Linked DNA regions of Homo sapiens: region 2 is linked to region 1. Evidence: fine-mapped expression QTL. A gene starts in region 1. The other region holds a variant in brackets. All regions are shown on one strand. Distances are between the middles of the regions.

Region 1 (5,230 bases):
ATCTGACTGTCAGACTGACAAAGTTCTACAGCGGAAGAAAGAAAAGGGTGATTGTGAAATGAATAGACTTTCCACAGAGAAGCAGAATAACAGTGGAAGTGGGAGATACGCATTTTGGGGAAAGGAAAGAGCATGAAAAAAGAGGTAGAGGCACAAAGTACAAGGTGTGCTCAGAGAAGACTGGGACTTTGATGTGACTGGACTGGAGTGAAAGGTGCATGGAGTGGAGGGTTGGGAGGTGAAGATGAAGACAAGAAAGGGAAATTGGAGCCAGCCAGTGAAGCGCCTTCAATGGCAAGGGGTTTGACTAAAATCCACTGGGGTCTTATAAACAAGTATAGATGGAAACAGCTGTATGGTGCTATAAACACAATGCTGGGTGACTGAGGTGAGGGGGAGAGGGAGCTGGCTGCTGGGAGAAGCTGAGAAACCAGAGCTGAACAGCTTGTTTCTAGAAGGGCCTAGGCATAAGGTATGGTTTGGGAAATTGCCTTGGCCAAGGACCTTTTTGGAGCTGCAGATATTCTCTCCCAAGTTTAGTATCTGTGAAGATTGTTCTGGCCTAGCTAGGGAGGCGGACATCACAAGTGAGCTGAAGTCCAGAAGCAAAGAAAAGCACTTCTTCAGAGAAACAGGAGTGCACCATCTTTAGGGAGCTGGGATTCCGGGAGGGCCAGTTAAGGAGCCATGTGGGGAACAGGCTAGGAGGGGAGGAAGCTGTGTTTGGAGCTAGGGAATATCTCAGAGGCTCAAAGGCAATGAATGTTAAGGCCTCAGTGTGAAAAAAGCCCAGGCCATAGGATGACTCACTCCTTTATTTCCCAAGCTCTGTTCTGCGTAGACAATGAAACCTCACTGAGATTCTTGCTGGTATGGAGTGGGTGGAGGGATTGATGCCTAACTATAATCAGGGCCGACTTCCTAGCAGCAACAATACACCAGATGACCTGGAAATAGGGGAGGGTTGTAGAGTGAAGGGTGTGTTGCAGATGGGACTAGGGGACTAGCATAAAGGGACTAATGAACTGGTTTGCCTGGGCTGGGTGGAGGGCAAGGATTGCCACCTATTGGCTGCTGAGGTAGGTAGGTCTGCATTAAGCAGGATGCTCAAGAGACCTGGCCCAATGCAAGATACTATCTTTAAAACTATGTCAACATTTGCATCTTATCAGAAGATACATGACATTTATGTAGTTACATGGTGCTTGATTTTTGAGATTCATTTTATTCATTCTTGAGAGTCCATCAGCCTCAAAATCCCTAAGCGCCCCAAGACCAATTCAGTGGGCCATAAATGTAAACAGAATAGTTTAAGTCTGGGGTTAAGACCCCGGGAAGGCTGGGTTGGGGGGACTGTGGAGGCAATTACAGATTTTTACAGATTTTTGTTGATTTCTATCCCCTTGATTATAAAAGTTATGGGTATGTATTATAATTTCTAAAATGCAAATAAATATAAAGAAAATAAATATAACCCATAATTCCATCACTACAGATAATCATTGGTAAACTTGTTGGTGTGTTTCTTTTCTACCCATGTATATCACATAAGTAGGACCATACTGTGTATAGTGTTTTGCATCCATTCTTTTACCTAACTTTATATTGTAAACATTTCCACATCATTAAACATTTCTCCAAGAACAATTTTTAATGGCTGTATTTCATGGTATGAATATTACATAAACATTCCCCTATTGTTCGACCTTTAAAGTATCTAACTTTTCTATGCAATACACATTGTGGTGCTGAACAACTTTTTGCATACATATTTTTCTGGCAGCTCTTTTTAGAAAAACAACTTCCAGAAAGTTGATTACTGGGTCAAATAATAAGAACCTTTTTGAAAATTTTGATTCTATATTACCAGATGGCTTTCAGAAAGATTATATCAGTGTTCAAGGCCACCAGTAATGTGTTTGTGCACATGTACGTGTGTGTGTGTCTCCCATCTCACTAACTATACCCTTGCCAACCTGCATTAGCGTTTATTTTTTGGTTTTTTGTTTTTTAGTCTTTGCTATTTTGATTAGGTAAACCTGGTTATCTCTGTTCTCTTTTTAGTTTTATGGATTCTGTGTGAGGTGAAGAGGCCAAGTTTTTTTTAAGTTTGTTCAGGGAACAGTAGCCAGGGATCAATGGAAGTGGCACCAGATGCAGGTGGAGAAAAGGGTTCAGGGTCCAGAATCCAGCGTGGGGAGAGAAGAGGGAGGCAGAGTTTGGGAAGGATCTCTGCTGTGGGAGTGGTAAGAACTGGGAGGAGCCAGACAAACAGCATTAGAACAACTGGGTGTGGGGGGCAAAGGCCTCCCACAAGAGGGAAAATAGGGAAGAGATTAATTCCTGCTAATGCATTTAATTATATTCAGTGAAGTCTTAGGGACTTCCCTCCACAAGTTCCCTTTAGGTCGGATTATCTACCCCTTGGCAGTGGGGATGCTTGTTGGATAGACCCCAGAACGGCTGCAAGTGAATCAACCTGTGAGTGTCAATAGAGAACCAAGGCCAAGGCTAAAGCAATGGTAATACATGAATACTGAGTACTAACTACAGGCCAGGCACAGTTCTAAGCAGTTAACTTATATTAACTCATTTATCTTAACCACCATATAAAGCAGGTACTCTTACACTCATTTTACAGACGAAATAGAAGCACAGAGAAGTTAGGTAACTTGCCCAGTATCAGTCAGGAAGTAGGTGAAATCTGGATTTGAACCCAGACATTCTGGCTAGAGTTAAAGCTCTTAACCACCAAATACAGAAATGTGGGAAGGGGAGCCAGAATTGCAGGGCACAGCCTCCTACCTACGCCGGCCGGAAGAAAACAGACGACCAAGTGAGATTGCAGGGGCAGGACTTCTGCTTAAAATGAATCCTGGGACAATGATAACAGCTACCTTTCACTGGGCCCTCACTTCGTGCCAGGCACTGTGTAAAGGGACTTTACGTTTAATCTTCACAGTAACCCCTTTGAGTGAGGTACTGTCATTACCCCATCTTACTGATGAGGAAGCTGACGCACGGAACTGGCCCAAGACCCAGGGTCGGCTCAGGCCAGCCCTACCGCGGTGTGGTGGCTGCCCACGTGGCGCCCAGGAAGAGAAAAAAATGGCGAGGCGGGGTCGGCAGGCGGAGGCGGGGCCAGGCGGGGGCGGGGCCAAGGGCCGCAGAGCCTGGCGCGGAGCCGGCGAGATTTTGGTGGGGTCTCACCTGTTGCGTGACTCCCCCACAGTCCGGCCGCGGGAGTCCGACCCTGAATGCCCAGGGAGTGTTGAGAGAAATCTGGACGAGTTTCGGGTCCCGCTCCCTTGGGAGCACGTGGCCTACCAGCCTCTCGATTGCAGGGTTGGGTGGTCGCGACACCGGGGTCGCCTTGAGGCCAGTCCGGCTGCCGAGGTCTGCGGGAGTCCACCTCCGGCCAGCTGGCAATTTTGAAAGACTGCCTTACTTTCCCCATCTCAGTGCCAGGGCAGGGGCCCTTGGAGTGACTTGGCTGGGGTCTGTGGCCCGATCCCCCTGCCGTCCCTCAGGACCCGGGCTTTCTGCTGTACAGACTTCTCGTGGGCAGCCTCCCCTCGGAACTCGGGCATCATGGCCTCAGGTGAGTGTGTGTACGTGTGTTGGAGGGAGGGTCTCTGGGACAGAGAAGTGCTGTGGCCAGAGTGACAAGAGGGTGGGAGTCACAGCACAGCAGCAGGACCTAGGGAAGGCGGTCAGCTCCTCCCAGGAGGGCCTGGGGAGCAGAGCCAGAGTGTGCAGAGACAGAGGAAAAATCCAAAGAGGCTAGGGTCTCTGTCCCAGACCCCCAGACAAGGGGGTCTCCTGGCCTTCCTGCCTTCCTGGGAGGTAGCTATTTGGCGACGGTGGAATTTTCCCGGGACAGGCCCCTCCCTCCTGGGCTGGGATTCTCGGTTCTTCCCCCTCCTCCCAGAGCTGGGCTACCCCGGGAGCTGAGGGTCAGATGTGGAAGGAAAGTGGGTGCTGGGTTTTCACGGAGTATGCCTGCCCTGCCCCGGGAGGACTGTGTTTGAGCTTGGACTCGCTCGCTGCTGAATTCCTGTTTGTTATTCTTTTTTCTTCCAGGCTAGCTGGAAGGACCAGCTAGCCTGGACTTTGGCTTCTTTGCCCGGGAGCCCTGGCATGATGGGGTGAGGGCTCTTGGTGGGTTAGTGGAGAGCTGGGGGCTGGCCCTTCCCCATCTTCTTTTCTACCCACCCCCTCCCCGCCCCCCGCCAGGCCCAGCCACCATCAGTCACGTCACTCCTGGGACTGAGGAGGCAGGGGAGGGATAAGGGGCAGAGATGGAGGCCCCACTCCCCGAGGTTGCCTAGACAACATGAGAAATCGTGGCCAGGGCCTCTTCCGCCTGCGGAGCCGCTGCTTCCTGCATCAGTCACTCCCGCTGGGGGCGGGGCGGAGGAAGGGGTTGGATGTGGCAGAGCCAGGCCCCAGCCGGTGCCGCTCAGACTCCCCCGCTGTCGCCGCCGTGGTCCCAGCCATGGCATCCTATCCATCTGGCTCTGGCAAGCCCAAGGCCAAATATCCCTTTAAGAAGCGGGCCAGCCTGCAGGCCTCCACTGCAGCTCCAGGTGAGTGTGTGCTTCCTGGCCTCAGGATAGATGCTGGGCTCTGTCTTGCCACCTCTCGCCCAAGGTGCTGGTCCCCTCAGAGGGGGCCACCTCCTCCGGCATCCTCTCTGTGGTGGTGCCCCTCAACCTCAGTCCCAGGGACAGCCGGCTTGGAAGGTGGGGTGAGGGGTGGTGGGGGGCGGGGGGTGGATCTGAGATATCTGTGCCAGGGATGCTGTCCTCTGTCACAAGGAGTGGGCATGGTGTGGGTGCAGCAAGAGGTGTGTATGCACACGTGTCAGCGTGTGCATGTGCTAAGACTGCGTGTGAAGCATGTGTGAATGGAGCGGGGGTGTGTGGGACTGACTGTTTTGTGGACTGGCCACTCTGACTGGCGCCTGTGCCTTTACCAGGCAGGCTTAGGCTGTTCTGTGGCTAGTTCCACTTTTTAGGACCCCACATCTAGATCCCCCTCACTGGGGGTCTGACATCTGGGCACAACCATTGCTGGCTGGCATCCCACAACTGGGGGCTTGACTGTATCTATCGTTTGCTATTTGCTCATTCCTGGTCTATATTGTGAGCCTCCTTAGGAGTATGGGGTGTCCTTGGTCAGGTCCGTGCAGGGTTCAGGCTGGGGCTGCTGCCCGCACTGTGTGTGC
Region 2 (5,230 bases), 30 kb before region 1:
ACCAAAACTTAGTATCTTTAATTTTTTTGATCTGTGCCCTATTACTCTAAAAAAGATGTTATAGCCACCTTGAGTATGTGGAAAGGATGTTAGCCAGCCCTTCCTCCTACCTCCTCTCCCCCAAAAATTACAAAAATGAGGACTGACACTCAACTTTATCTTATTGGTGTTTGACTTATTTCCGTGAATGCCATTTAGTGCTGCAAAACTTGTTGGTTTGTCTTTTTCATTAACTTAATCCACTTTTACTATTTGCTACTGACCTATCATCCTTTATTTCTTTTTCAGAACCGAATGCATGAAAGCATGAAACTGTTTGACAGCATTTGTAATAACAAATGGTTTACAGAAACTTCAATCATTCTCTTCCTTAACAAGAAAGACCTTTTTGAGGAAAAAATAAAGAGGAGTCCGTTAACTATCTGTTATCCAGAATACACAGGTAAGGGGTTATGAAAGATTTTATTGGAGGTACACATCTTACTTAGATCAACACTTTGGTGGCATTCATAAAACTGCCTTTTTTTTTTTAATGATTGATTGGGAGAGTATTCAGTGGTAGTGGCATTGGCATTAAGCCTGTGATTAAAAGCCCCTAAGTCAAGAGTGCCATATCAGACACAATTGAGTTTTCTGTGTTTATTTTAAATTTCTATCTTCATTTTTTGAGGAAAATACAAAAGGAGAAAAAGTAAATTTGGGAGCTGGGCATGGTGGCTATAATTCTAGCTACTTGGAAGCTTGAGGCAGGAGGATCATTTGAGCCCAAGAGTTTGAGATCAGTCTAGGCAACATAGTGACACCCCCCTGCCTCACAAAAAATAAAGTAAAATTTGGTATATGTTGAAGAAAATACAAGGGTAAATTTTAATCATTGTGCCCAAGAGACTGACATGTAGTTGCAGAGAGACATAAATAATTTTATTATAGTGTTTAATTGCACATAAATAATTTTATTATAGTGTAAAATATGCATTAATAGAAGTGGAATAGAAGTGGTTACTTCTGATGGGGTCACTGTAGTCTTTTTCTAGAGCTACTAAGAGGATGAAATAGAAATCATCAGGCAGACGGGAATAAAAGCATTTTAGAAAAGAGGAATTGCATATATGAGAATATGGAGGTAGGAAAATGGTATGACCAGTTGTGGAACCCAGAAGGAATTTGGTATTACTAGAGTTTACAGTGGCAGGGAAGAAGTGGTTGGAGAGATGGTCAGAGATCAACTCATGGAGGGCCTTATATCTCATGCTGAGACGATGATCAGTTAAAGGTTTAATATCCTACCATGATCCATATCATGGGGTGCATGATATAGAAGAAACTGTGCTTGAGAAAGATTATGCAATAAATAATAAAGATAGATAGTAGGGGATTTGAATTAGTAAGAACTCAGGATGGAAATAAAAACTTTTGATGGGGATTAAGGGATATATCATAGAACCCAAGGGCAAGAATGGACAGGTCTTAGAATGGAATTAGAACTAGGAAATAATTGTCAGGAACCCTGGAAGCACTCTTTATCCCCATCTTTTTTCTCTCCTCTCTGTGTATCTTTTTTATTATTCTTTCTTTCCTAACCAGCTTTCTCTGCTATTCAGTTTATGTGATAACAGCCTAGTCACAGTTTCTGTATCTCTGGTAAAAAGATCAGACTAGGCTGGGCGCGGTGGCTCACGCCTGTAATCCCAGCACTTTGGGAGGCCGAGGCGGGTGAATCATGAGGTTAGGAGATCGAGACCATCCTGGCTAACACAGTGAAACCCCGTCTCCACTAAAAATACAAAAAAAATTAGTTGGGCTTGGTGGCAGGCACCTGTAGTCCCAGCTACTCGGGAGGCTGAGGCAGGAGAATGGCATGAACCCGGGAGGCAGAGCTTGCAGTGAGCCGAGATCGCGCCACTGCACTCCAGCCTGGGCGACTGAGCAAAAAAAAAAAAAAGATCAGACTAGACTGGGATTGCTTGGCCTTGGTTTCAAATTCCAAGGAGAGAGATTCTGGCCGTGGTTAAGTCAGGCAGAAATCTGTAGGCCAATCAGTTGAGGTCAGGGGCACAAATGTAACTGCCAGGGATGGATCACTATGAAACTTATAGATCAGAATCAGGTATTTCCAGAGAAGGGGAACTCTTATTAGCAGAGACACTGTAAATGCTTTCTATAATAAAGTGAGGCTGGGTGCAGTGGCTCATGCCTGTAATCCCAGCACTTTGGGAGGCCGTGGCAGGTGGATCATGAGGTCAAGAGATCGAGACCATCCTGACCAATGTGGTGAAACCCTGTCTCTACTAAAAATAGAAAAATTAGCTGGGCATGGTGGTGTGCGCCTGTAATCCCAGCTACTCGGGAGGCTGAGGCAGGAGAATCGCTTGAACC[C/T]GGGAGGCGGAGGTTGCGGTGAGCCGAGATCGCACCACTGCACTCCAGCCTGGTGACAGAGTGAGACTCCATCAATCAATCAATCAATCAATCAATCAATAAAGTGAAGGGGTAAAGCAGGGGTAAGGAAGTGGGAAGAGTCAGAGGTACTCCCAGGTTTCTGTCTTGGATGCTGGTGCTGTGACCTGAATTCATGTATAGGAATGTTGATTTTTAATTATTCATAGAACGTTGAAATAATATCTCATGGACAGTTATATTCGAGGTTGAGGAGAGGTTGGGGTTTGAGATCATCAGTAGTGAAAACATGGAAATGGGTGAAATGACCTATGGAGATAATATTATAGAATGAGGAGAAAAAGGACCACAGGTAGAACGAGAGAGAATAGCAGCCTCTATTGGCAGGAGAGGAAGAAAGATATCATAACCAAAAGGAGAGGTTAAAAAGTGAGTTGATTAAATATTTCAGTCAACAGTGTTATCTGCAGATAAGTAAGATACATACTGAAAAAGAGCCTTTGGAGTTAACAGTTAGGAGGTCGTTGACCTGCTGTTGAGAGCAGTGTCAGTGGAAAGTTGAGTACAGTGAGTTACAGAATGGAAAGTGAAGAAAGAAGACAAGTGTAGACTACTCTTGAGCAACGTGGGTTTAAAGGGAAGGGAGAGATTTAAGAATGTTTATAGGCTGAGGGCTAAGATCCTATAAGCAAAAGAGATACATTAAAAAACAGATGTAATTGAAGGAGCAAGATTTGCAAGCAGGTGGGAAAAAAGGAATTAAGAGTCTAGGTAGGATAAATGGATAAACAAATTGTGTTATATACATACAATGAATATTACTTACCCAAGAAAAGGAATAATAATAGATGGTACAACTTGTATGAAACTCAAAACACTGTGCTAAGTAAAAGAGGCCAATACTTCTATTATATGATATATCCAAAATAGGGCAATTTCTGTCCATAGAGACAGAAAGAATATTAGTGGTTATGAGAAGTGGGAGAATGGGAAGAAAAGGGAGTGATTACTTAATGGGAATAGGGTGTTGAAAAAGTTTTGTCACTAGAGAGAGGTGGTGATTGCATAACATTGTGAATACACTAAGTGCCACAGAATTGTACACTTTAAAATGGTTAAATATCTGTTATGTTAATTTTCCTCAATAATTTTTTTAAAAGAGTATAGGTAGAGCAATTGATTTTTGAGCAAGAAGTAAGACACCTCTAAGACCAGAAGTACAAATAAGTGCAGATATGTAACATTTTGAGTGAGGTGGTAGGCCAAAAAGTTGAGATGTAGTTTAATCCTCATGGCCTCTGTTTTATCAAGGAAGTTGGAAATGTGGTTACCTGTTCAGAGTAAAGAACAGAGGGAGGTGAGAATAAGGTGAGTTTATAGAAAGCAACCAAGTTTTAGGATTGGGGGAGAGAGATGTAAGACAAGTAAAATAATTGGCATTAATGTTGAAGGCCCAGCTTAGAGTCTTCACACAAAGCAAAGAGCCTTTAATATCATTTCCATTTTCTTTGTTGTTGTTAACTTCCAAGCCTATCCTCCATTGTCTTCATTCTGTGTACAGATTCTTACGGTCCTTATTTGCCAGGTATTATTATCTGTTCCTAGCAGACAAAATTCACTTTTCACTCATCTGCCTCCTTTAATTTACAGAGGTTGTTTTCCAGATTTTAAGAACCTGCTTCAAGCACCTACAAAGCTGTTTTCCTTCAGTTCTTTAAATATTTTAATTAATATTCTTTTCCTTTCCTTTTTTTTTTTTGAGACAGTGTCTTGCTCTGTCTCCCAGACAGAAATGCAGTGGCATGATCTCGGCTCACTGCAACCTCCACCTCCCAGATTCAAGTGCTTCTTGTGCCTCAGCTCTACTACAGGTGCCCACCACCAGGCCTAGCTAATGATTTTTTGATTTTTAGTAGAGATGTGGTTTCACTAAGTTAGCCAGGCTGGTGTTGAACTCCTGACCTCAAGCGATCCACCTGCTGCGGCCCCCAAAGTGCAGGGATTACAGATGTGAGCCACCGCACCCAGCTCCTTTTTTCTTAAGCTCCGTTTTGTTACCTGGTCTTCTTTATATCTTTGTTATTGATATTTTTGTTATGCTTCACGTTACTGAAAATAGCCTGTAGTTTATTGGAATAATGAATTGTCTTTGTTGCGTTTCCCTGGCTTTATAGCCAGTTTCTAAGGCTACTCTAAAGGTTCTATAAGTAGACAAGATGGTGTAAAAAGCAGGTGATTTAAGGGTATTAATTACAAATATTGTTGAGACAGGCTTTGCTTTTGGTTCCTGTCACCTTTCTTTTTGTAAAAAATAATAGCTTCATTGAGATATAATTGGGAAACCCTAAAATTCACTCTTTTAAAGTGTATTGCTTTTCCTTATTTAAATTATTACCTTAAGGCTTTGAAGCTAAACCTCTTTAAAACTGTGGAATGATTTTGAAAAGAACAATTTACCTTGTTGAATTCCTTTTTTTTTTGTTTTAATACAAACAATCCCATAGCGTTTATTGCCATCTTTTAGTAACATAAGGGTAATCAAAACACTATGAATGAATGTTCATATTGGAAAAAGGACATCTAAAAGCAAACTGTATCCTTCTCAACAATTTCTCACTTCATTGATCCTTTCTAGTTGGAGACACTTTGTAGCAGAGTAATATTATCTCCTTTTAGCATGATCCGACCCAGTTGTTTTAAAAAATATGGAACGCTTCACGAATTTGCGTGTCATCCTTGCGCGGGGACTGTGCTAATCTTCTCTGTATTGTTCCAATTTTAGTACATGTGCTACCAAAGCAAGCACTACCCTGTTGAATTTTTATTCCAAGATCAC

Evidence for each region. PIP is the estimated chance that this variant, and not a neighbour inherited with it, causes the effect.
Region 2: its variant is the best candidate, but not a certain one, in a credible set for the expression of GNAT2 in whole blood (INTERVAL, PIP 0.61).

The regions. Positions count from the first base shown.
Region 1 is chr1:109,616,678-109,621,907 of GRCh38, forward strand. GNAT2 (G protein subunit alpha transducin 2) reads right to left here and starts at 2,939. Exons shown (of 9, transcript NM_001377295.2): 1 at 2,806-2,939. AMPD2 (adenosine monophosphate deaminase 2) reads left to right here and starts at 3,160. Exons shown (of 19, transcript NM_001368809.2): 1 at 3,160-3,601; 2 at 4,237-4,589. The coding sequence starts at 4,499. RefSeq lists enhancers at 2,327-2,857, 2,838-2,887, 2,858-3,386, 3,908-3,957, 3,917-4,445 and 1 more and a silencer at 3,078-3,267.
Region 2 is chr1:109,586,441-109,591,670 of GRCh38, forward strand. GNAI3 (G protein subunit alpha i3) reads left to right here. Exons shown (of 9, transcript NM_006496.4): 7 at 289-442. It also overlaps the pseudogene RNU6V. Among named protein-coding and RNA genes, the nearest start is that of MIR197, 9.8 kb to the right of the region's middle. The variant C/T (reference allele first, on the strand shown) is at 2,377.